Linked DNA regions of Homo sapiens. The protein of the gene in region 1 interacts with the protein of each later gene in a pairwise test. Each region holds a gene or a part of one and is shown in the gene's direction. Other genes may lie near its edges.

Evidence for each region. Proteins that work in one complex are often made in the same cells at the same time.
Region 2: the proteins of KMT2E (region 1) and NCR2 interact in binary tests that used the Homo sapiens proteins (3 or more experiments, as listed by UniProt).
Region 3: the proteins of KMT2E (region 1) and ATP13A1 interact in binary tests that used the Homo sapiens proteins (3 or more experiments, as listed by UniProt).

The regions. Positions count from the first base shown.
Region 1 is NC_000007.14:105,015,902-105,025,169, forward strand, and holds part of KMT2E (inactive histone-lysine N-methyltransferase 2E), read left to right. Parts: intron 1-9,268. UniProt on the Homo sapiens protein: Associates with chromatin regions downstream of transcriptional start sites of active genes and thus regulates gene transcription. Chromatin interaction is mediated via the binding to tri-methylated histone H3 at 'Lys-4' (H3K4me3).
Region 2 is NC_000006.12:41,329,836-41,338,607, forward strand, and holds the start of NCR2 (natural cytotoxicity triggering receptor 2 isoform 1 precursor), read left to right. Parts: upstream 1-5,772; 5' UTR 5,773-6,017; coding exon of another isoform or gene 6,018-6,041; coding exon 6,042-6,093; intron 6,094-6,251; coding exon 6,252-6,593; intron 6,594-8,772. UniProt on the Homo sapiens protein: Cytotoxicity-activating receptor that may contribute to the increased efficiency of activated natural killer (NK) cells to mediate tumor cell lysis.
Region 3 is NC_000019.10:19,653,677-19,661,809, reverse strand, and holds part of ATP13A1 (endoplasmic reticulum transmembrane helix translocase), read left to right. Parts: intron 1-1,822; coding exon 1,823-1,912; intron 1,913-2,018; coding exon 2,019-2,209; intron 2,210-4,401; coding exon 4,402-4,474; intron 4,475-4,660; coding exon 4,661-4,816; intron 4,817-4,893; coding exon 4,894-4,963; intron 4,964-5,043; coding exon 5,044-5,150; intron 5,151-5,626; coding exon 5,627-5,756; intron 5,757-5,876; coding exon 5,877-5,932; intron 5,933-6,155; coding exon 6,156-6,282; intron 6,283-6,356; coding exon 6,357-6,494; intron 6,495-6,570; coding exon 6,571-6,691; intron 6,692-7,109; coding exon 7,110-7,267; intron 7,268-7,665; coding exon 7,666-7,841; intron 7,842-7,915; coding exon 7,916-8,026; intron 8,027-8,133. UniProt on the Homo sapiens protein: Endoplasmic reticulum translocase required to remove mitochondrial transmembrane proteins mistargeted to the endoplasmic reticulum.

The DNA.
Region 1 (9,268 bases):
TGTCTCCACTTTTGAAAAAAAAAAACAGCCTTGCAAATTTCAGTGGTGATGATGGGTGCGCTTCAACATTAAAAAAAAATTATTTGGGTACCAATAATAGTTTTTGTTTGGTTTAATCCAACCATCTTTTATTCAATATGCCAAAGTAGATTAAAATGTTTAGTAACTGTATAAGTATCATCTATTTTATATGATTAAATGTTTCAATCTAGAGTAAGACATTTCCCAACCACCTCTTGACCCATTTTGTGGATTTTGGTTTTTGTATTGTGTTTTAGCTTAAATTTTAGGGAGCTGTACAAACAAGCTTAAACCTGTTACTTCATTGGGTGTAGAGATGCCATTATATTTTGCCATCCATTTTTCCCATGTATTTAAGCTTTCCTTAAGAATTTTCAAAGTTTATTGTGTATTTGGTAAAGTGAAGCTTCATGCTGCCTTTAACAATCGTCTTACAGCATACTATCATCATTATGTAAGTTAAAAGTAAGGCTCCGATTCTGGATTTTTTTCCTCTTCAAATATGCCCATTTACCTATTATAGGATTGTGGAATTTAGTCTGTTTTAATAGACCTTAAATAAAAACATTACCATAATAGGGTCTTGAATCCATTTTATGCTATTTTCAGAAACTTACAGACTGAGACTGAAAATTAAATGGTGTCAGGTGTCATTTAACTGAATTTTTTAAAGTGTGAAAGATTAGAATTCACTTTCGTAGTGGGAGTTCTTTTTGGGTTGAACTAAGCAGTGAGATGTGAGTGGGCCATTAATGACATTTAATGACCATTCTGATTGTGGAGCAACGGAAAGATGAGTGCTTTTCAATCCAGTAGTACTTTAAAAGGTTGAAGAGTATACACTGTTTCATGATTCTTTTATTCCATTGTAAATATTTTAGAGCAGCATTTACTTCATATGGTGACTGTATCAACTAGGTTGATAAGGTTCTAGCCTACGAAATAATTAGAGAAATAACTGGCTCAAGGATTTTCTACATACCAGTGAGCTTCATCATGGAAGACTGAGCACACAACCTTACTTAGAATATTTGAAATATTTTATTATAAAGTGAAATGTTGGTGGGTAGTGGGCGAAATTTGTGTAGGGTTTTGGGGTCAGTACTCATTTGTATTTTGATCTGAGCAAGTATTTAAGTCCAGATCATTCACTGCTGTGTAAAGATTGTGCATTTATTTTAAAGGCTGGGTGATTAAGGTCTGTGGTTCAGAAGCTTGGTACTTTAAACTTACTATTCAATATACAAAATCAGTGTATTCTTAAAAATTTGATTTATGTGGCCATAGGAGGGAACACTGCCTGTGCCCGATGGTTTTCTTCATAGAGACCTTGGTCAGGTCTAGACAGACAAAGCAATTGAACTTATTTGGCTTCAAATGAAAAATACCAAGTTAGAAATTATAGGAAAAGCTGTCTTCAGTTTACTAGCTTTCTTCATATTGGCTTGCTTTATTGCTTTAGGTTTTGTTTCTTTTTGGTGGTGGTGGTGGGTGGTTTTTTTTTGTTTTTTGTTTTTTTTTTTGATGTTTTAGTTCCTGTAAAATGATACTGGCTTTTTTTTTTTTTAAGTATTGTACCTTATTTTGAATGGTTACTTTATAAATCACGAGGCTATAATTGTTTGTTTTTTGTTAATTTACTATGTGTGTTTTAAGTTAGGATTGTCTAGGCAAATTTATTAGAAGGTTAGGCATAATTTTTGTTCCCAGAGAGTTTTGAAAGAATTTGGTTCCTTGGGGGAAACTAGTCAAATGGTCTTTGTTCTAGGATAGCTGAGTTTGAAGGATTAGTTGTTTATCTGTTTAAGTGGATTTGTAGAGAACTATAATGTAATTGGAGAGTTAATTTTATTTTTAGAGCCTACATTTTGATCATACATCCTTTCGTTGTCAGTGTAAATGAAAGGATCTCTCTGATTCCAGTTTAAGTGTAGAGCCTTGACAGGTCTCCATTTCCCGTCAACTCTGTAAGACTGATAACTGCCCTACAATTTTGGCTCGTCTGACTTCCTCACAGCTTCCAGAGAGAAATCATTGCCATATATGCCCCCAGTAAGCTCTAGGACTTCTTGAGTCTATTGAGGCAGTAGGGAGAAAAGCTAATTAATAGGAGAAAAATTTCCCCTCAGTACATATCTTAGTGGTCTTAGGGAAATTATAATTTCTTAAATTGGCTTCTTAATTTCCAAGAATAATGTACTCGTTTTCATTCATCAATCTTCTAAAGAAACCTGTGGTTTAATTTTTAAAGGTGTGTTTTATGTAAACCCTAACAGCTCTGCATTTCTGGAAGCTACTACTACTGGGACTTAAATGTGTACAACCATAGTGTGTTTAAAATGTGTAAAACTAACAGAACTTTGAAGAGCTATCAAAACTGGTTAGGAAATACTAGTATGCAGTTTTCTCAACAGATGCTATTTTATGTTTACTATTTTAAAAATATTTTAATAATGTGTAAAAGCTTTTATCTCCAAAGGATTTGTTTTTAGCAGATGGTAGGTGCTTAATTATTTCTTGGATGTGAATCTTTTATTGAAGCAAACACATTTACATCTCAAATATGTAGGGTGATCAGGGACTGTTCCCTGTTATGTGTTAGAATAAATGTTAAATACTTGTATTCTGTGAGACTTGTTTCCCCCAATTTCATGATAGATTATCTATGAGACTTTTTAATATTGAAAATATAATTATTTTATGGTAAAATTAATTTTTATGTTGACTGGCAAATTAACGAGTGGAATACTATTTGAAATATTACTCTGTGAATGTTACTGGCTTTTAGGCTGGGTTTAAAATTGAAGTGGCTCGTATTTACTACCTGTTCTGTAATGTGCAGATGTTGGGAGGAGCCTTATTTTTTTCTTGACATTGAAAGAATAATTTTTTGTATTACCTACAAATTTACTTAACATGGAGGAACAGTATTTGTTGTTGAAATTGTTTTCTACACTAAACTGGAAGTGGATGGTATTTAACTAAAAATCTTGCAATTGCTATTAAACAATGAGTATTTTGCATTATATAAAATAAACAGTATTTTACTTTGTATAATATAAAATGAGTATTTTACTTTATATAAAATACTCTGTTTAATAGCAATTGCAATATTTTTAATAGCAATTGCAAGAGATAAGAATTAACCATATTATGATGCAAACAAATTGTTTTTTTGTTATTGTGAACTTCCATGCTAAGTGCTACATTAAAAATCAAATGAAGGTGACCCAGAGTAAGTTAATTAGATTTTAATTCATATCTTTAAGGATAAAAGAAGTTTTTATTAACCATTGGTAACTAGGATGCTTTTTACTTAAATCAGAGTCAGGAAAAGCAGTTGGTCTTATATTTCACGAGATAACATGTTTTCACTTGATATGAAATCAGTTCTTTTTTTCCCTCATGAACAGCTCATAATTGGATTTTATTTTTGGACAGAAAAACTTTTTTTATTGTTAGGTGAATTTTACAGTTTTATTGGAAATCTCGTTTGGTTATTTACCAAAACTATTTAAGCTTTTTGGGATGTTGGACATTTTCAATGCAACAGGTCAACAAAGAATTCTTTTTTGATGTGTTGCATTAAGATGCCATCAAAACAGACACTACGTCTTTTAATGAGTAAATAATTAACCTATAATATGTGTAAACTACTTGTTCATCATTTTTAATTAAAATATTTTGTATTTCAAAACTGTTTCAAATATGAAATCTGGGTTTAGAAAGGATCTGCATGCAGGTCAACGTGATAAGCAATGATCTATGTAGCTTTATTTTTACGACAATTGGACAGAGGTAATTTCTTAGCACCTCTTAGGCTGCTTAATTTAGAGTTAATCCAAAGGAAGAAACATTCCTTCAGAAGACTAGGACATATCAGATATTAATTATTAAAAATAGGCTGGGCACGGTGGCTCATACCTGTAATTTCACTACTTTGGGAGGCCGAGGCAGGCGGATCATTTGAGGTCAGGAGTTTGAGACCAGTCTGGCCAACATGGTGAAACCCCATTTCTACTAAAAATTACAAAAATTAGCCGGGCGTGGTGGCAGGTGCCTGCAATCCTACCTACTCAGGAGGGCGAGGCAGGAGAATTGCTTGAACCCAGGAGGCGGAGGTTGCAGTGAGCCGAGATTGTGCCACTGTACTTCAGCCTGGGCGATAGAGTGAGACTCTGTCTCAAAAAAAAAAAAAAAGTAAATAAGTAAATTAAAAAAAAAAATTCTTGGTCCTGAATTTTAATATTGAGAAAGATGATATTGTGTAATCACACCTGTGTAATAGCCAACTTGGTTGCAGCATTTAAGGTCATGCCTGTCTAGCATACGATAGTGGATTGAGTTAGTTTTGGTTTGTGGTACTTACAACTTTAAAGTTCACTTGGCCTGGCATGGTGGCTCACGCTTGTAATCCCAGCACTTTGGGAGGCTGAGGCAGGTGGATCACCTGAGCTCAGGAGTTCAAGACCAGCCTGGCCAACATGGTGAAACCCCATCTCTGCTACAAAAATTAGCTGGGCTTGGTGGCGGGTGCCTGTAATCCCAGCTACTTGGGAGGCTGAGGCAGGAGAATTGCTTGGACCTGGGAGGCGGAGGTTGCAGTGAGCTGAGATCGTGCCAGTGCACTTCAGCCTGGGCAACGAGCGAAACTGCATCTCTAAAAAAATAAATAAAGTTTATGTAATTATGCTGTCTCATGTTTTATCTGAGACCAAAAATGTTTAAATTTTTTCATTTATGTTGACTTTTGTTTTCATAGGGTATTTAAAATAATTTCCATTTAAAGTCTTAAAAATTTACACTTATAAATTATTTTAAACTTATTTGAGTTAAATAAGCTTAAAGATTAAATATCTTTTCCTTACCGTTTGGCCTAAGATGAAGCCTAGTGTCAGTGGTTTTTAGTAAAAAGTGAGGAATATGGTGAAAAGAAAAGAATTAACCATTACCACTTAGGATATTGTCAGGGAAACATAGTTTGGGTCTTTCAGAGAATGTGTATGAGAAACATACACTCTTCTAATATTTTTGTTTTCTTATTTCAGAGACTAATATATGTAATCGTTTCTATTTTTGAGTTTACAGAGAGATATCTCCAGTTCCTCTTACCATCTTGCTTTATGTAACATTTAAAGAAAGACAGCGTTCAGGAATTTGAAAACCCCATTTCCTCTTTAATGAAGTGGCTGAGATGGGAAGATTCATGATGTGACTAATTTGAATGGTTAGGACTGTGGTCCAGTAGCCATAAATAGGGGTCTCAGGTTGGTCTGATACATAGTAACTCTTACCCAGAAAATAAGTCTCTGCTTCTTCTCTTTAAATGAAGTTGCTTAATTGGTTGCCTTGACACAGGCTTATTACATCTTACATCATTAAGCCTTCGCTGTAACAATATTTTTGAAGCACAGACAAAAGATGAATTTGAGTAGCTATTATTTTCCTGGCACCACAGATGCAGAGAGAGATGAGACTGTCCCTGCTTTGAGAGAACCCGTAGTTTATTTCACCTTCTTAAAAGCCTGCTGTTTTAGAGTTTTTTGGATGCAAGGAACAGAAATCAGCTCTAGCTAGCTTAAATAAAGGATTTGTTATAAGGCTATAGGGAAATCTCACATAATTTATTTGAAGAAAGTACAGATGGGCCTCACAGGAATTGGCAAGGTGTCAAAGAGCCACTATTCACCATCTTGATCCCCTCTAATTATCTGAGACTAGTTAGAGAGATGGTGGTGGGGTGGGTGTTCATGGTTTGTAGAGTGGCGTTTCTCAGAGTAAAGCAAGAGAAAGACACGTTTAATTCTCCTGAAAACAATTACCTTTTTCCAGGAATGTTCAAAGGTACTTGGGAGGGCTTCCAAAACTAAATAATTGATATATCACACTGATGATTCAATTTTTAATTAAAAAATTGCCACACACACATGATGAGGAATGCTAAAAAACCAAGATATTTTTGGTTTTAACTTAAAAATAATGTAAAATTTACTGAAAATTTACTTGAATAGTACAAATAACTCTCTTATACTGTGTACCAAGATCACCGGACTTGTGACATTTTGCTGTTTGCTTTATTATTCTCTTTATATATACACCTGGTATTTTTCCTGAACCATTTGAGAGTGGGTTTCATTGCCAGTAGTACTAGCCCCCTTACAGCCCTTATTACTGAAGTATGCATTTCCTAAGAACACGCATGTTTTCCTAAGTAACAGAGTAGTTGTCAAATTCAGGAAATTTAACATTGATGTAATACTAAATAGTCCATATTCTAGTTTTATCAGTTGTCCCTATTATGTCCTTTATTAGCATTTTTTTCAGTACCATTAGCCGATCCAAGATCACAGATTGCATTTAGTTTTGTTGTCCCTTAAGTCTCTTTTAATCTGGAACAGTTCCTCCATCTTTGTCTTTCATGACATTGGAAGGCTTATTATTTATATATTGCTCCTCAGTTTGGCTTGGTCTTAAGGTTTCTTCATTATTCAGGTTATACATTTTTGGCTAGAATACTAGATTAGAAATATGTGTTTTTCTATCGTCTGGAGGCATATGATGTTTGTTTGCCCTTTACTATTATGTTCATTTTGATAGCTTAGTTAAGGTGTTGAGTAGTTTCTCTATTGTATAGTTGATGTTTTTTTGACATTACTAATTAATTTTTGGGGAAATACTTTGAGATTGTATAAATATCCACTTCCTCATTAAACTTTCCTCTTCAAGATGTAGCGTCTGTTGATGATTCTTGCCTAAATAAAGTTTTTACTGTGTTGGTTGTAAATACACGAAGGTTTTTCTTTTCTTTTGCTTAATTAAAAAAACTAATTTTCTTCTTTTCTTTACTTGGGTACATACATACACATATACACCAGGGTTTTTAACTGATTTGTTTCTGGATAGTTGGGATTGTGGGAGTTTCGTTTTCTTGTTTTTTCTTTTCCAGTTTTTCTGTAAGGCATATGGGCTGCTTTTTAAATCACAACAAATAAAATAAATTTTAAGGAAGAAAAGTATAGATAAGATAGACAGTAGTATATGTATAATATTCCTGTACAGTTTTCCACCGAAATGGGATTTAAATAGTTTCCTGGATGCTGATCTAATTTGAAATCCAGAACACACACACAAAAGATGTGCTTCTAGTTCCTTATTTAGTCTTTAAAACTATTGCTAAATGAGTCTTGAGTTACAGTTGTATTGTTTAGGCTTATGATTTGCTAATGCCAGCAGCTTAATTTCTAAGGGCCAAAAACATCTTCCAATTTTGATACTCCCCTTTCTCCAATAAAAAAATCCATTACCCCGTCTCTACTAAAAATACAAAAAATTAGCTGGGCGTGGTGGCGGGCCCCTGTAATCCCAGCTACTTGGGAGGCTGGGGCAGGACAATCGCTTGAACCTGGGAGGCAGAGGTTGCAGTGAGCTGAGATTGCACCATTGTACTCCAGCCTGGGTGACAAGAGTGAGACTCTGTCTCAAAAAAAAAAAAAAAAAAAAGAGAGACAAAAATTCATTAAGCAATTTTTTTTTTTTTTTTGAGATGGAGTGTCGCTCTGTCGCCCAGGCTGGAGTGCAGTGGTGTGATCTCCACCCACTGCAAGCTCCGCCTTCCGGGTTCATGCCATTCTCCTGCCTCAGCCTCCCTAGTAGCAGGGACTACAGGTGCCCACCAGCAGGCCTGGCTAATTTTTTTGTATTTTTAGTAGAGATGGGGTTTTACTATGTTAGGCAAGATGGTCTGGATCTCCTGACCTTGTGATCCACCCACCTTGGCCTTCCAAAGTGCTGGGATTACAGGCTTGAGCCACTGTGCCCGGCTCCGTTAAGCAATTTTTAAAAAGTAAAATATTTTTTGGAAAACATTAAGATAGGTTATTTTTCACATACATGCAAATTAATGCTTTTTAAAAGGGGGTTGGTGAGATGGTATATACACAGATGGTAATACAGCAGAGCATGAAACATCTGTAATTCTAGGGCAAAGCGGTATATGGTTTCTAGAACTTTGTAGTTAAAGAAATATATACTCAGAAAGGTTAAGAAGGACAAGTAAAGGAAAAGAAACAGAAAAACACTTAGACTTTCATTACATTATGATAATACTCATCAGTTTTATGTATTTTCAGTTATAGCAAAATGTTGGTAGTGAATTTGGATGATAATTTAATTTCTTTGGAAATTTTCAGACAGGAGAAGAAAATTTTGAGACTTACAGAGTACATATTCTCTAAAACTTAAAATTTTCTTCTGAGAAAATTAAGATAATCATATTTCACAACAATGAAGATTAATGAAATACAGTGGATACTTAGCATTTGGTAGGTGCTTTAAAAAATAATTTGAATTGACTGTGTGCCAATATGTCTTAACAGATTGATGGAAGTTCAGTTTGTAGTACTACTAAGTCTTAATTCGGTGTTTAAACAAAAGGTATGGCGGAAGGTACAAAAACAAGCCCCATGATGAACGAAAGGATTTTCTTTCAGGCCAGAACTCCCATCCTGGACGTGTAAAGGAGTACCTTAATTGACTGAAGTTAAGAATCTACATTTAGAATTGACTTAAGAGAACTCTTTGTTATTTTTTTCTCACTGTGGCTCAAGGACCTCATGTATCAATTATATTAAAATGAACATTCTCAGACCAATCAAGTTTTTAGAGTAGGGCCTTGAATTTGCATTTTAGTACTGGCTCCAGCTCATTTTTATATTCCAGTTCTCTGCTTTTATTTTATAAGGAGATTGAGCTCCAGAGAGTTTAAATGATTTTCCCAAGGTCGTAAAGTTACATAGTGGTTAATCAAGGTTTAAAATTTAGGTCCTGATTCTTGGTGCTTTATACTTTTCCAAGAAATCATGCTGGACATTTCTTTTTAAAAGGCAGGCCACTATTTTCAGAGTCTGAAATAAGCAAATACTGGTCTTTGTACAGTGTCAAATGACAGACTCTCTGTCTACTGCTTGTGTATATTCCAGTTCAAGATGATTCATTGGTTTCCAGAACCTATAGGCTATTTGGATAAGGAGCTTGAATTAAAATCACAGCAGTACAAATTGGGATCAAGTTGTGGTTGAGCCTTGAATGCCAGATTAAAAGCATGTGTACTTAAGAGGAGTGCTACTGAAAAATTTGCACTGGAGAATGACATGTGGAACGTGGCTTATTTACCTCCAATTCTTAAGATGTAAAAGTAACATATGTTTATTAAAAGGACTCAAAACAGTACTTCTTTAGAAGCTGTATT
Region 2 (8,772 bases), on another chromosome or scaffold:
TAAAAATACAAAAACAAAATTAGCCAGGCATGGTGGCAGGCCCTGTAGTCCAAGCTACTCAGGAGGCTGAGGCGGGAGAATGGTGTGAACCCGGGAGGCAGAGCTTGCAGTGAGCTGAGATCACGCCACTGCACTCCAGCCTGAGCGACAGAGCGAGACTCCGTCTCAAAAAAAAAAAAAAAGGACTAAGAGAGTAGATCTTAAATGTTTACACCACAAAAAAAGATAAGTATGTGAGGTGATGGATATGTTAAATCAGCGTGATTTAATCATTCCACCATGTATACATATATCCAAGCATCTTGTAATACACTAAAAATATACAATTTTTATTGGTCAGTTATACCTTACTAAAGCTGGGTAAAGGAACAAACATTGCAACAGACTACAGATAAAGTTCCCTTCACCACTTCTTCCCCAACATTCATCATAGTTATTGCCCCAAAAGACTGCTATTATTAGTTTGATGTATAGCTTTTCACAAACAGAAAATTTCTGTGTTTGTACAGATAAGAGGTTTATGTGCACAGACAAACCATTTTGAGTTCAGTTTACTGTATATAAGTGGGATTATACCATACATGTCATTCTGCAGCAATTATTAAATTTAACAAGATGTTTGGAGATCTAGCTACATTTGCACACAAGCTGTATTCTTTTTTAACCTTTACATGGTGCTGTATAGAAGACGTGGACCAGAAGTTATGTTATTAATTCCCCTGTGGAGATCATTATTATAAACAATCAGTGATGAGCGTCTTTGTAAATCTCCTTTTGTGCCTGTGTGTGTATTTCTCAAGGATGGGTGAATCCTTGAAATGGAATTGACAAGTCAAGGAATGCACATATTAAACATCTTAGATCCTTATTATTTGCATTCAGAAATGCTGAACAGTTTCTATTCCCACTTTGAACATAACACCCACTTCTCCACACCCTTGCCAAGAGAGTAGGACAAGCTTTTAAAATATTTGTCAAATTAATGAATAAATATTGCAATTTGTTTTAATCTGTAAATATCTGATGAATAAGGAGATAAGACATTCTTGCAAATATCTCTGAGAATGTTTATTTCAATTATTGAAAGTTGCTCATCCATTTCATGAATTATTGACATTAATTCTAAATTCAGGTGTTCTGTGTGCTTGTATTGATGGTTTACCTTCATGCTATTAATTTTTCTCAAATGTATGAGATACTTGATTGTCAAATAGTATTAATGCATAGATGAATTGAGGGAATATTCTCATGTTGGTATTTTGAGCTGTTGAGGCTTCTACTTCTGACATTCTAATTTTTCTTATTTTGTTTTTAACACTCGGAAATCAAACGTATCGGTGGCCACTTTTCTTGTTTAACTTGGATTTATCTTTTTTTTATTTATTTATTTTCTTCCATTTACAAAGATAGGGGGCTGGAAGAGAGAATGCCAGGGGGTCCAGTGGGCCACACCGACCCTTTCTTCCCTCCATGTTCCCCGTTAGAATCTAAGCACAGAAGGAAGAAGGCCTACTTTTCCAGACAGTAGGGCCTTCTCTTGGCTTGCAGAAGTGCATTTGAAATGGAGGTGGCAGAGATGGGATACCACACCGGGCCAGGCCTTGTGGAACCTGCAATGCATTCCCTGCAGAGTGATCTCCAGTAGGCTTCGGAGAGAGTAAGGGCTGGGGCCCTGTCAAGATGCTGCACAGGGAGAATTCCCCCAGGAGCTGTCCACAGGAGCCCCTGAGAAGGTGGAGGCTGAAGGGAGGAGTCAGCTAAGGGCAGATGTGCAGATACGTGTTTGAGCTGGGCAGCCTGAACTTGGCAGAACAGAGCGGGGACAGAGGGGAGCCGGAGCTGGCCGTGGTGGTGACTGAGTGATTTAGGGAAATTAAAGCAAGAGGGGAGATCATGGAGGAGGAAGATTCTCAGGTTGGGCAAAGAGGCTGAACTGGGTTTGGTCTCCCCTGTTTGGGGCGTTGGATCAGATGCACAGGGAGTGTTCCAGAGGGGCTGGGGACAGCAATGTGGGAGGGTCCCACCACAGCAGGGATTTAGGTACTGGTAGGTGTCTTCTGCAGGCACTGGATGGCCCCTTCCTTACTCATTATCTCAGCTGTCCCAGAGTGGCAAGAGCTGAGCATCGCCCCTCGGCCTGTGCTGAGCTGAAGCCTTCAGAGACCTCCATAGCTGCTGCCCCCAGGGTGTTCGTGAAGTGTGTGCACCGCCTGGCCCTGCTCCTCTCCAGGACTGCCCTTCTCCAGCTCTGTCACCCCCTAACTTGGGGCTGGTTTCTATGGAGCAGAGTGGTCTGCTGAAGGAGGGAGTGCTGAAGGAGGGAGTGAGTGTCTGTGTGAGTGTGGGTGCACTTGGGTGAGGGCCTGAGAGTTTAAAGGCAAGGATCTTGATTGGCCTGTAATAAGCAAATGAGCAAACAGAGATGACGGCCAAAGGATATTGAAATCGATGTTAAACATAATTTTCTAACCCTACCCCTGATTTTTGTCTCATCTTCTGAGGCTGACCACCTTTACCAGCACAGCTGTCCCCACTGTGCTCCATTTCGCTCCTCCTCTCTGGCCCCAGGCCAAACCCAGCCATACTCCCCCTGCTCCAGCCTGCAGCTCGGGAGCACATGAAGGGCTGACAGCACCAGGCAGCACAGAGACCGGGGCCCTGGGGGCGGCTGAACGGGGTGAGGGGGTTGGAGGATGGGGTTGGTTCCATGGAGTAAGGAAGGAGAAGAAGCAGGGAGAACCCAGCTGGGGAGATGGCTGCTTCCTGCACTCCCTGAGCCCAGGCCTCCCGCAGGGTGCTTAGGGTGGAAGCCTGGTTCTGTGCCTGACCCACCCTGAACTTCCTGTGAGGGAGCTGTGCGCCCAGACTGCAGCCTTGTGTGGGCAGTAGCTCAGGTCCCTCTGACCTCTCTGGCAGGGAAAAAGCTGCTCTGAGACCAGATGCTTTGAACCTGGCATCCTGGGACCAGGAAGGGCCATTGTTATGGGACCATTGTCATGGGAGCAGGAATAACCCTGTCAGGGCAATTGATGACTGAAGGATCCTGCTGGAGCTGGGGCAGAGAGCCATTGGGGTCAGAGGTATAAGCAGACTTGTTGGGGTTCAGGGAGAAGACTCCTTGGATCTGCAAAAGGCAAGCCTGGATGAAGAGTAAGGAAGTGCCCATGGAGAATCTCTGAGCCCAGGAGGAGCACCAGGTCAGGAGAGAGGAGGCCTGGGTGCTAGTCCTGGTTTGGCCCTGAAATAGCTGAGTGACTGTGGAAAGGCTACTTGCCTTCTCTGGACCTCATCTCCCTCAGTTGTGAAATCAGCACTGAGAGAAATTCCCTTTTGTCCCTGCTACTTCTGGTTCTATCATGGGGGAAATTTACAGCTACCCCTTCACCCCTGCCCAGCCTAGCTTAGCCCTGTGCTGCGTTTTGGGGATCACCTCCAGACCTCTACGGCTCCCTGCTTTCCCCATTTCTGCATCAGAGGCCAGCCCTCCCTTCCCATGGACCTACCCAGGCTCGGAGCCACTGTTGCAGGCTAGACTGGGCCTTGCTAGAAAAGCAAGTACATGAAGTCTCCAGCTCTCCCAGCTCCTTCTCTGGGTTCCTGTGAGTGTGTGTGACAATGAGTTTGGGAGAGGAGGTTGCTGAGGTTCCCAAGTTCTCTGAGGGACCTTCTCAGAGGGTGGGCAGGGAACCCAGAATCCCCCAGAACCCCAGGCTCTTTGACAGGACTTTGCTGTGCCCTGCTCTGATCGTGCCAAGGGGGAGGCACTATCCCTAGCTCTTCAAGAGACTTCTGAAAGGGCCCCAGATCCCACCACAGCTACCTGCCCCAGTCCCTCCTGCAGAAATTCAACTTGTGACAAGGGCTGTTGTGGGTCCCCAGGGAGCAGGGCCAGTCCCAGCCTGGATGAGGGGCTGCCTAAGCCCAGGCTTCCCTGCCCCCAGGTCCCAGATGCCAGAGGAAGCTGAGCGTGCAGATGGTTCCAGCAGGGGCCTCCCCCTAGGGTGCTCAAGGCCCCAAGTCTATGTGGAGGGTGCCCACCCCACTCACACAGGTGGGGAAGCCACAACACAGAGAGAGGGGCAGATTCCCCGCTTTGAGAGCTCCTGTCCCCTGGGGAGAGACGACACACTCTGACACAGCAGAGAACGATACAGAGCTGGCTGCAGGCTGAAGAGACACACAGCTAGTGGCACATAGCAAGGGGTGCTCTTGTAAGCTACAAGAAGGAGCTGTCACTTAGAGTCAGCAGGGGTCAGAGAAGGGGAAAGTCAGCATGGGAACACAGTTGCTGACACACACACACACACACACACACACACACACACACACACGGTGACGTGCCTCGGTGCCATCTGAGGACAGGGCCGCCTTCCTCCCCCTCGGGAGGATGCCCCCACCCTGATTTGGTATGTAATTATGTTCAGGGAGAAGCTGGGCCCCACTGTCGGCGAGGAAACCCCCTAAAAGCTCACCTCCGCCTGTGTGTGCAATTCAGTGGGAGCCTCTTTCTCACCCCTGGTTTCCTGTCATGTCTGTGGGTCGCATTTCAACCAGACCAGCCGGAAGGCTCCAGACCGAAGTCAGGAGGCCTGTTCTGGTCCTGTGTGACTCTGAGCAGGTGGCTGACCATATCTGGGCCTCAGTTCTCACATCTGTGAAAAAGAGAAGTAATGTCTCCCTCGCGAACCTGCTGAGGGTCTTGAGAAAGTGTGCATGAGAATGCTTTGTAAATAATGCTTGTGTGAGTGAGTGGCGGGCATCGCTCCCTGAGCTGTCTTCTAGCTCTGGAGCTCCAGCCTGCTTTCCCACCTTGGGCCCTTGGGCGCCAACATCTGATAGCCCTACTGTGTCCTCCTTTTGCATACCCCTCTGCCTTTCCCATTCTCAGTCTCTGCATACTCCTACTGTAAGGAGAAGGGCAGTGTACTGAGATGGAGTGGAGAGCAGGAGTCCAGGGGCAGGCAAAGCAGTGGACTTGGAATCGAGTCCACTTGACAAGTTCCAATTCCCGTCTCAGTTATTACCTCTGTTCACAGAGCTCCCGGCAGCAGATCGCCAGTCCAGCAGAGCCCCCAGTGGTGCAACTGCAATTACACACAGTGTCTCTACCAGTCCTAAGATATATTAGCTCGTTCTCTTTGTAAATTGCATCGTATTTTAAAACTGAATCTTCAAAGTGCTGACATTAACTAAAGAAAAATATGCTAGAGTCTTTCATCTGTTTATGTTTTAATTAAACAATATTTCTCCAGGGTCCTTAAGTGGCAGAGGTCCAGGATGCAGAGATGAGGCCAGGTCCTGGTTCCTGGGCTCCCTCTACCCCACCCCACTGATGCATCCCATGCTCCGTGTGCTCTTCCCACCCTCCCCTCCCCGACCTTTGCCAGGGACCCTCCCTAGCCTCCCTTGCTGGTTTTGAATCTCCACCTCCTCTCCCCTCTCCTTTCCCGCACCCACGAAACTCCCAGAGTGGAAGCACATCACTGACCCACCATGGAGGCCTGGGCATGACGTCCCTGGCCATCCTGTGACCAGTGAGGCTTGGGGCTTGTGATCAGGGTTCCAAGTGCCCCTGAGTTTGTCATCCACCCTCAGCCTGCCTTTCCCTGGAAAGGGCGGCAAAGCTAGGGCCCTGCAAAGAAGAGAGGCAGCACACAGAGGGAGCAAGGGGGAAGCAGTCCATAACTCGCCCACAGTTTCCTCCTGGCCTTTTCAGCTCCTCCCTCAGGGGTAGGTCATGGTGGGGAGGGGCAGCTGGGCACAGGGGAGAGCAGGCATCTTCTACAGAGGCCTGGGAAGCTGTGTGCCAGACAGCGCCGAGCCCACCAGACCCAGACTCACCTACAGCTGGAGATCCCCACTTCCCTGTGCCCACAGAATCTGCCCTTTGCAGTCTCCCATCTCCCCAACCCAGGCCTCAGCCTGTCTCATTTTTCTATCAGACGTGCTGGAAGAGCAGCAGAATCAGGCCCAGCTCCCAATTCCCTCTCCCCAGTCTTCTCCAGGTGTCCCCTCCCATGAGCGCACAGGAAAAGGACCACATGGCCTGGCGAGCCCTACACCCACTGCTACTGCTGCTGCTGCTGTTCCCAGGTGAGGGGGAGGAGGAGCCCAGGGAGCAGAGGAGATGGGTGTGGTGGGGACTGTCAGGACAGCAGGGTCAGGGAGCAGGTGGCTCTGTGGCCAGAGGCCTGCTGTGAGGCAGGTTGTGCGCGTGGCCTTGACCTATGCGTTACTTCATCATTCTCCAGGCTCTCAGGCACAATCCAAGGCTCAGGTACTTCAAAGTGTGGCAGGGCAGACGCTAACCGTGAGATGCCAGTACCCGCCCACGGGCAGTCTCTACGAGAAGAAAGGCTGGTGTAAGGAGGCTTCAGCACTTGTGTGCATCAGGTTAGTCACCAGCTCCAAGCCCAGGACGATGGCTTGGACCTCTCGATTCACAATCTGGGACGACCCTGATGCTGGCTTCTTCACTGTCACCATGACTGATCTGAGAGAGGAAGACTCAGGACATTACTGGTGTAGAATCTACCGCCCTTCTGACAACTCTGTCTCTAAGTCCGTCAGATTCTATCTGGTGGTATCTCCAGGTGAGCTCTTTCCCTAGGGTCCTCAGAGGGGTGCCCCTCACCCCCTTTTGGTGCCTCCATCACCCCTGGTTTCCCAATCGTGGAAGCCACCCATGCCCACGCCCCAGTCTCCTGGGAAGGCTGTTGGGAACAGGTGCAGGGGGAACTCATATGTGCACAAGAGCAGCCATCTCACAGTCTGCATGACTCCCAAGCCTGCAGCCTGGGCCTCCTGAGAGATGCTGAAACAGACCCGGTGAGCATGCTGACCAGTCAGCCTATATGACCCTGCTACAGGAGGGCAGGACCACCCGGCATCTTTGGTACATAGTAGGTGCCCAGGAAAGGTGCATCCACTGGCTGCCCCCACCATGTAGAGCCAGTGGTATCTGGGTAGTCTAGATACCAAGATACTATGGGTATCCCTCATAGTCCAGATCGGGGACTAAGAATGAGTGAAAAAAACTAAGAATGAGTGAAAAAAAATCAAAAGAAAAACAATATTTTGTGACATACAGGAAATTCAAATTTCAGTGCCTATAAGTGGAGTTATTTTTTGGAACACAGCCATGCCCACTCAATTACCTATTGTCTGTGGCCCTTTTCATGCTGTGACAGCAAAATTGAGCAGCTGTGACAGAGACCACATGGCTCATCCCTGACCCTTTACAGAAAGTGTGCCAAACTCCTGCTCAGAGCAGAGCTACCCACAGTTCCTGTGGAAGAGGACCTTCTAAAAAAAAATCTGCAATTCACATGAGTAATTTTTTTTGTAAAATACAGTAAAAAAAAATTACTAGAAAAATAAGAAAAAGATATATAAAGTACAAGCCCAACATTTATTAAATTTGACAAACATAAAATTACATTTTAATGAATACAATCAGAACAAATATCACATAGGGAAAAATTTATAAAAACTGTATACATTGTTCATTTGAAAGTGTGCCTAAAGGTGATTGATGTAGTGGCTTAACGGTATACCCATAACGTTTTGTCATTCCTCAGTTAAAACTAAGTACAAAGCTAGAAGGGAAATTGCAGTTCTCCATATTAAATGCCAATATGCACCCTTCAAACAAACACCCTGTCTTTCCGTTTTTAAGGATTATAATGTGACAAATGAGCACTTTTCTTACTTGGTAACTTTCCTAATCTGAGAACTATTTATGACACCACATCACTTAGGAGATAATGTATAAAGAAATTGTGTTGATTTTTTTTAAAATAATACTCACAGTAGAAGCCCAGAAAACTGGTCTCACGGAGGTATAATGTCAGAAATAGAAGAAATTTTAAAGCAATTCCGACAAGCTCAACAGTTTTATATTTAACTTTTACAAAAGGAAGCAAGCGATGCTGTAATTTCAAAATGCATCTTCAATCCTTTATCAGTAGCCAGTTCCAAAACTTTATCCTAAAACTTATAGTTTAAATTATCTTTCGATGGGAAAATATGGATTCTAGATCTATGAATTTCCTCTGCATATATCTTCTTCTGACAAAAAAACGAAATTCAAAACATGCTATCAAATTATTAATGTTTTCCCATGAGCACTTGTGAAGATATGCAATATCAATATTATCACTTATTTTGTTGATAAATGTTATTAAATTAAGAACATGTCATAACAATTCATAGAAATGGTTCTTCTGACTTTTATGTTTGCACTTAGACTTTACTTGCCATTGAAAAACATGTCGCTTTACTTCCTTGCATGGAAATATTAACTTCAGAACTACAGTATAAACAAGTCTGATGGTACAATTCACATTTGTACTAAACTGGCTTCTTGTCTTAATTAGGAATTCTTCCTATAGATGAAACATGCTCAACAAAACTTTAAATTTGGCATGCAACAGTAGCTGTTTATGATCTGTTTCCATATTACCACATAATAAAGAGAATGATTTCAAATTTAATATATTCACCTTATAAAATTCACAATTCTGTCCATGTTGGTCAGCACAACGTTCAGTTAAGCTGCTTTTTTTTCATAGTAAAACTCTCTCAATGAAGGAAGCAGTGCATTAATTTAAAATCTAGCCCAAGACTTCTTAACCTGGATGACATTTTCCTGTCATTGCAACTGCAGCCATCAGAACATACTCTTACATAAAACTTAACCCCAAACCACATTTTGATAATATAACCTTCATAGTTTTATACATTCAGAGCTAGTTGTGTTTGTGACAATTA
Region 3 (8,133 bases), on another chromosome or scaffold:
CGCTTTGTTTCTGCGGGTCATCATTGTGCTCCCCCCATCTCCATGCAGCTCGTCTCCATGCAGCTCGGTCTAGCAGAGCAGCAGAGGAATGGATGGCGGTTCACGGGGTCCAGGGAGCACTGAACGAGTTCCATTCAACATTTCTGTGTCTTAGGTGCTGGGGAAACAGCAGTGAACAAAACAGGCAAATCCCCCTGCCTTTGTGGTGTTACTGGGAGGGAGAACTCATAGTCAGCAGTTGATGCCAAACAGAGATGACATCTAACATCAGGACAGGATGGGACATTGCCGGGAACTTTAGATGGGGCAGCCAGGGAGGGGCTCCTGAGAAGGTGATGTTTCAGCAAAAGCCTGAGGCAGCAAGGGAGCTGTGTGACTGTGTATTCCGGGCAGAGAAAACAGCACATGCCAAGGCCCTTTGCTGAGGCACGATCGAGCCCCATGTGCGTGTGGAGCTGTGGAGTGTAGTGAGCAGGGTTGGTGGAAGAGGCAGAGCTGAGCAGGAGGCCGGGGGCCTGTGATGGGGCGGGGGCTTGGCTCACGTGAATTGAGGACGTACTGGGTGGGTGCCTGGCAGCGTTCTTCCTATTTGAGTTCATGTCACCTTCAGCAGAGCAGAGCCCTGGGCATTAGGTGCTGTCTGTGCACCCAGCTTCCCAGCTTTTTTTGTTGTTGTTTTTGTTTTTGTTTTGTTTTTTGGGGTTTTTTTGTTTGTTTGTTTGTTTGTTTTTGAGATGGAGTCTGGCTCTGTTGCCCAGGCTGGAGTGCAGTGGCACAATCTCGGCTCACTGCAACCTCCGCCTCCCAGGTTCAAGTGATTGTTCTGCCTCAGCCTCCCGAGTAGCTGAGACTACAGGTGCCTGCCACTATGCCCAGCTAATTTTTATATTTTTAGTAGAGACGGGGTTTCACCATATTGGCCAGGCTGGTCTCAAACTCCTGACCTCGTGATCCCCCCTGCCTCAGCCTCCCAAAGTGCTGGGATTACAGGTGTGAGCCACTGCACCCAGCCTTTTTATTTTGAGACAGAGTCCTGCTCTGTCGCCCAGGCTGGAGTGCAGTGGTGCAATCTCGGCTCACTGCAAGCTCTGCCTCCTGGGTGCACGCCATTCTCCTGCCTCAGCCTCCCAAGTAGCTGGGACTACAGATGCCTGCCACCACGCCCAGCTAATTTTTTGTGTTTTTAGTAGAGATGGGGTTTCACCGTGTTAGCCAGGATGGTCTCAATCTCCTGACGTCGTGATCTGCCCACCTCGGCCTCCCAAAGTGCTGGGATTACAGGTGCGAGCCACTGTGCCTGGCTGGTTTTTTGTTTTTTTTTTTTTAATTGAGATAGGATCTCACTCTGCCACCCAGGCTGGAGTGCAGTGTTGCAATCTCAGTTCACTGCAACCTCCGCCTCCCAGTTCAAGGGATTCTCCTGCCTCAGCCTCCTAAGTAGCTGGTATTACAGGTGTGCACCACCGTGTCCGGCTCATTTGTGTATTTTTAGTTGAGACAGGGTTTCGCCACATTGGCGAGGCTGATCTCAAACTCCTGATCTCAAGTGATCCGCCCACCTTGGCCTCCCAAAGTGCTGGGATTATGGGTGTGAGTCACCGTGCCCAGCCTTGTGCTCCCAGCTTTAAGTGTGGCACCAGAGGCACAGCAAGATGGTCTCGTTTGTCCTGATGACAGACGAGGGAGTGACAGAGGCAGCACCAGAGCCCAGTGGCATTTCAGAATATACCCATAGAGCTGCTGCACCCAAAACCTCCCGGGGGGGTCTTGGAACTGTAGGTTGAGAAGAGCTAAGCCACAATGCTTTCTTTGTCTCTGTCAGGAGTACGACCCCAGCAAAGCGACCTTTGTGAAGGTGGTGCCAACCCCCAACAATGGCTCCACGGAGCTCGTGGCCCTGCACCGCAATGAGGTAGGGACTGCCTGCTGGGCTCCTGGAGGAGGGGCTTGAGTAGGATTCCCAGGCGCTGACACCCCAAGGTCAGGGGCCTCTGTGGCAAACACACCTTCTACCGCAGGGCGAAGACGGGCTTGAGGTGCTGTCCTTCGAATTCCAGAAGATCAAGTATTCCTACGATGCCCTGGAGAAGAAGCAGTTTCTCCCCGTGGCCTTTCCTGTGGGAAACGCCTTCTCATACTATCAGAGCAACAGAGGCTTCCAGGAAGACTCAGAGATCCGAGCAGCTGAGAAGAAATTTGGGAGCAACAAGTGAGTCCTTGATTTGCCTGTAGCACCTTTGCCTTTCTGTCCTGCTCCCCTCCTGATTCAGGGTGCCTAGGAAGCGGGACAGAGGCATCTGCCCTTTTATTTATTTATTTACTATTATTTTATTTTTATTTTATTTTTTATTTTTGAGACTGAGTCTCGCTCTGTCACCCAGGCTGGAGTGCAGTGACGCGATCTCAGCTCACCCCAACCTCCGCCTCCCCGGTTCAAGTGATTCTCCTGCCTCAACCTGCCAAGCAGCTGGGAATACAGGCTCCCCCCACCACGCCTGGCTAATTTTTGTATTTTTAGTAGAGATGGGGGTTTCACCATGTTGGCCAGGCTGGTCTTGAACTCCTGACCTCAGGTGATCCTCCCATGTTGGCCTCCCAAAGTGCTGGGATTACAGGCGTGAGCCACTGCACCCGGCCAAATCTGCCCTTTTAGCCAAATGTCCCAGGTGACTGTGATGCCGCTTGAGCAACATGCTCTAAGTCCAGTCTCCCCTGAACTTGCCTGCTGGCAGGAACCCCAGAGGGTCTGCAGCTGGAAGCCCGTGCCCTGGGGTGTGAGACCTTGAGTGTAAGGTTCTTCACAGGAGTCTAGCCTGTGGCCCCTCCTCAGCAACAGCTTTATTTTAAATTCTTTTAAAATGTTTATTTGTGTAGAGATGGGGTCTCGCCGTGTTGCCCAGGCTTGTCTCAAACTCCTGGCCTCAAGCAGTCCTCCTAAATCAACATCCCAAAGTGCTGGGATTACAGGCATGAGTCACTGCACCCAACCTAAACATTTCAGTCCTCACTGTTTCGAGTCTACGCATCTCAGCGCTTCAGAATGGTGATGGAAGACCGTGACCATGTCTGCCCTTTTGTACTGAGTACAATGGCCAATGTGCGGTGCACACCCTCTCCCTTCATCTTCACCAAAACTGCAAATGCTGACACGTGGCTGGGAGCCGGAGAACTGGGCTCCAAACCCCATCATGGCCTTGTTACGATGGTCCTCAACCCAGAAACCCACAGAACACCTAGGGAGCTCTTTCCTGACTTAATCACTGTTCAGAGATTACAAATATGTTGACTACAACTATCAATCTAATACAAGGATTTATAAGAAACATTTAGCAACTTCCCCTACCCCAAGGTTGGCCAGTCACATTAATGGCCTGTGGCAACTACGTTCCCTTTCATGCTGTTCTTACTCAACGCAAAGGTACCCAGCAAGATACAAGGGAAGGGCTTATTGTTTGATAGCAGTGGGGTTGCTCTTTGGTTTCCTCTTCTCACATCCCATACATAAGACGTCCATGCAGTTAAAGGGCAGAGCGAGAATGACCCTCGTTGACATGACTGGTGCCCTGATCAGATTGGACTATGGCACAGAGTACTGCAGAACACACCCTTAGGCCCAAGTCCTTGCATTCTCGAGCCTTTTTTTTTTTTTTTTTTTTTTTTGGAGACAGGGTCTTACTCTGTTACCCAGGCTGGAGTGCAGTGGTGTGATCATGGCTCACTGTAGCCTTGAACTCCTGGGCTCAAGCATTCATCCTGCCTCAGCCTCCCAAATAGCTGGGACCACAGGCACACACCACCACCCCCAGCTAATTTTTAAATTTTTTGTAAATAGAAGGTCTTGCTGTGTTGCCCAGGCTAGTCTCTGACTCCTGGGCTCAAGCACTCCTCCTGCCTCGGCCTCCCAAAGTGCTTGGGATTACAGGCGTGAACCACCCTACTCGACCCATTCTGGGGCTTTAATTCAGGAATCATAGAAAATCTCAGCTTTGGTGGGGCTGGGTCTCAGTGTCTTCTGCTGTCTGTAGCTTCAGGGCCTCCATCTTTCAATCAGAGGTTCCTTCTCTACTTGCTGTGTCACTCGACCAGATGACGGGCTCTCGTCTGACACCAGCCCCAGGCTGCCAGGAAGAGCATATTGCAGATTAAGGAGCTTCATCTGTTTTATGCAGAGCCGAGGGCTGTGGGCGGGCAGCATGTCTACCCCAGGCTCAGCCAGGATGAGGGAGAGCCACTGCCAAATGGATCCTCCTATCTGGAAGCTCGCCAGGGCTCCCGACGCCCACATATGGCTCTTGGTTTCTTGAGAGCGGCCTGCCATGCTCAGGTTGGAGGGGTCAGGGTGGAGACTCCATACCCCAGAGGCCTTGCCCTGGGAACAGGATGGGGCCTGGTCTCTTGCAGGGCCGAGATGGTGGTGCCTGACTTCTCGGAGCTTTTCAAGGAGAGAGCCACAGCCCCCTTCTTTGTATTTCAGGTAAAGCAGCAGCTCTGGCCCATCTCCCCATTTCCTCCCTTGGGGCTTTCCTAACCGGATCAAGCCTGCCCACCACTTCTAAACCTGGAAGCCTCTCCCCACCCTCACATATCAGATCCGGTGGGTGGAAGGGGCTCATGGGAACAGGGCGGGTAGGGCAAGGACAGACAGGCTGGTATCCCACAGGTGTTCTGTGTGGGGCTCTGGTGCCTGGATGAGTACTGGTACTACAGCGTCTTTACGCTATCCATGCTGGTGGCGTTCGAGGCCTCGCTGGTGCAGCAGCAGATGCGGAACATGTCGGAGATCCGGAAGATGGGCAACAAGCCCCACATGATCCAGGTGTGGCTGCCAGGGAGACCCAGGTTGGGGGTGCAGCACAGGTGCGGCTTCTGTGCTGACACCCATGCCCCGCCCAGGTCTACCGAAGCCGCAAGTGGAGGCCCATTGCCAGTGATGAGATCGTACCAGGGGACATCGTCTCCATCGGTGAGGCCGGGTTCCGCTCAGTCCCAGTGGGAGCCCCAGCCTCAGGGCCTCTGGCCAACCCTCCTGCCTCTGCCCTGCAGGCCGCTCCCCACAGGAGAACCTGGTGCCATGTGACGTGCTTCTGCTGCGAGGCCGCTGCATCGTAGACGAGGCCATGCTCACGGGGGAGTCCGTGCCACAGATGAAGGTACTTGGTGGAGGATGGGGATCCTCAAGCTGTTCAGGAGGAAACAGGCCAGGAGGTGGAGGCCCAGGGGGTGGCGGGGATCCCCCTCAGGCACAGGCGGAGGAGGCAGTGTGGGCACAGATGAGCTCTGTGGACTGGGGAGCCGGGTGGTGGGGGCGAGGAAGGAGGTGAGAGAGCCAAGGGCATCCAGGGTACATTGGTGCCCTGGGATGTCAGACCAAGGTGGGCTGGGAGCAGTCCAGAGGGGTGAGTCCCAGACGAGGCCAAGTGCAGGCCCCAGAGAGCAGGCACTGTGAGTGCAATGGGGAGAAGACAGGACGGGGTGAGGGTGAGGATCTGGGAGCTGGGTGGGATGTATTGGTCGGGTGGGGATCCCCCTGGCTCATTCCAGCCTCAAGGTCCAGCTGTCCAGGAACTCAGATGGAGAAGGAAGCAAGGTAGGCCTGGCCATCCAGATTCACGATCTTCCTCCCCAGGAGCCCATCGAAGACCTCAGCCCAGACCGGGTGCTGGACCTCCAGGCTGATTCCCGGCTGCACGTCATCTTCGGGGGCACCAAGGTGGTGCAGCACATCCCCCCACAGAAAGCCACCACGGGCCTGAAGCGTAGGTGCCTCATGGGCGTCTGGGGGTATCTGGGCTTCCACCCCCTTTGCCCGTCTGCTTGATCATGAGGGAGTCAGGACGAGGAGACAGGCATGACGGTGACTCTGCTTCTCTCCCCAGCGGTTGACAGCGGGTGCGTGGCCTACGTCCTGCGGACCGGATTCAACACATCCCAGGTGCGGGGCCAGGTCTGGGGAGGGCGGGCCCCAGGGCAGTTGGACAGCCAAGGTATCAGCCCTTTCCGACCCCAGAACATCTGCCCCACGGGCTGACTCTGGCAGCACGGCCCTGGACCTGGGCCAGGGTGCAGAGGCCACCCCAAGACCAGGCCCACGCTTCCAGGCCTGAGCTGCTGGAGGGAGTCCAGACAGCAGAAAGGCTGTTCCTCCATTCCTCCAGGGCAAGCTGCTGCGCACCATCCTCTTCGGGGTCAAGAGGGTGACTGCGAACAACCTGGAGACCTTCATCTTCATCCTCTTCCTCCTGGTGTTTGCCATCGCTGCAGCTGCCTATGTATGGATTGAAGGTAAGCGCCACGGCCTCTGTGGTCCCCTGCGCCCACCCTCCGAGGCTCCAGGTTGGCAGGCCCTGTCTCCACAGGTACCAAGGACCCCAGCCGGAACCGCTACAAGCTGTTTCTGGAGTGCACCCTGATCCTCACCTCGGTCGTGCCTCCTGAGCTGCCCATCGAGCTGTCCCTGGCCGTCAACACCTCCCTCATCGCCCTGGCCAAGCTCTGTGAGTGTGTCAAATGGGATGGGGTGCCGAGTGGGCTGGGGCCAAGCAGGACCCCTGACCTCACTCCCGCCCCTAGACATGTACTGCACAGAGCCCTTCCGGATCCCCTTTGCTGGCAAGGTCGAGGTGTGCTGCTTTGACAAGACGGGGACGTTGACCAGTGACAGCCTGGTGGTGCGCGGTGTGGCCGGGCTGAGGTAAGCATCAGGGGCCCTGCAGCAAAGGTCACCCAGATGGGGTTTCTGGGAAGTCGAGAGACAGGTGGCCCATCCACCCCAAGCCCTTGCAGTGAGGGCCCGTCAGAGGCCCTGCCTCGGGTTCATTTCCAGGGGCTCCCCACAAAGTCCTGGGTGTCAGCCATGGTAGCGGCACGGGGGCTCAGCTCAGGCCTGGAACATCCCACACCAGCCATGCACCACATGACCCCCAGGCACAATGCCTGGCTTCTGGGGGCATCTGTGAAGCAGGTGCAGGTCTCATAAAGACCCAGTTGGCGCCCAAGCCACCCCAGTGACAAGCACGGAATGAATGGCCTTGGGGGTCCTTCTGCTGGTGGGGATGCAGCTTCGCCCTACCCGCCTGCACTCTGTAACCAGCTGTTCCCCGACCTTGCAGAGACGGGAAGGAGGTGACCCCAGTGTCCAGCATCCCTGTAGAAACACACCGGGCCCTGGCCTCGTGCCACTCGCTCATGCAGCTGGACGACGGCACCCTCGTGGGTGACCCTCTAGAGAAGGCCATGCTGACGGCCGTGGACTGGACGCTGACCAAAGGTGAGGGGCTGGGGCCTCAGGCCCAGCAAGGGGGAGCCACTGGCTCTCACAGCCCTAGGCAGGTGGGCTGCACCCCTCAGAGCATCTTGGGGACAGGCAGGCCTACAGCTCTGATGCTCCCCGAGGTGGGTGGCCAGAGGCTCACTTTAGACCCAGGATAGGCCACGTCCTTGGGTGTCCCTCTGGGTTGGAATCTGCCCTGCCCTGGCCGAAGCCACAGTGCCAGGGTCCTCCAAGCCCAGGTCTTCCAGCTCTGGACCAACACCTGCTCTAGCCCAGAGCCCCGATCAGGCCCTGGGGGAGGCAGGAGGGAGGTGGGGGAGGCCGGGGTGAGAGGTAGGGGCTTGGCTGCCTCTTTGGAGCAAAGCCCCTCAGGACTCGTACTTATTTGTTTCCAGATGAGAAAGTATTCCCCCGAAGTATTAAAACTCAGGGGCTGAAAATTCACCAGCGCTTTCATTTTGCCAGTGCCCTGAAGCGAATGTCCGTGCTTGCCTCGTATGAGAAGCTGGGCTCCACCGACCTCTGCTACATCGCGGCCGTGAAGGGGGCCCCCGAAACTCTGCACTCCATGGTGAGCTGGCCCCAGCCTGGGGCAAGGGGTGGGGGCGCGGGGCAGCCCGTGACATCCCCCTGCATTCCCTGCAGTTCTCCCAGTGCCCGCCCGACTACCACCACATCCACACCGAGATCTCCCGGGAAGGAGCCCGCGTCCTGGCGCTGGGGTACAAGGAGCTGGGACACCTCACTCACCAGCAGGTACGGGCCCAGGCTCCCCCTGCCTTCACCATGTGCCTGGCCCGTCAGCTCCTCCCTGAGTCACCTCCTGTGTCCCACAGTGCCAGGTTGAATGGTTGTGATTTTGT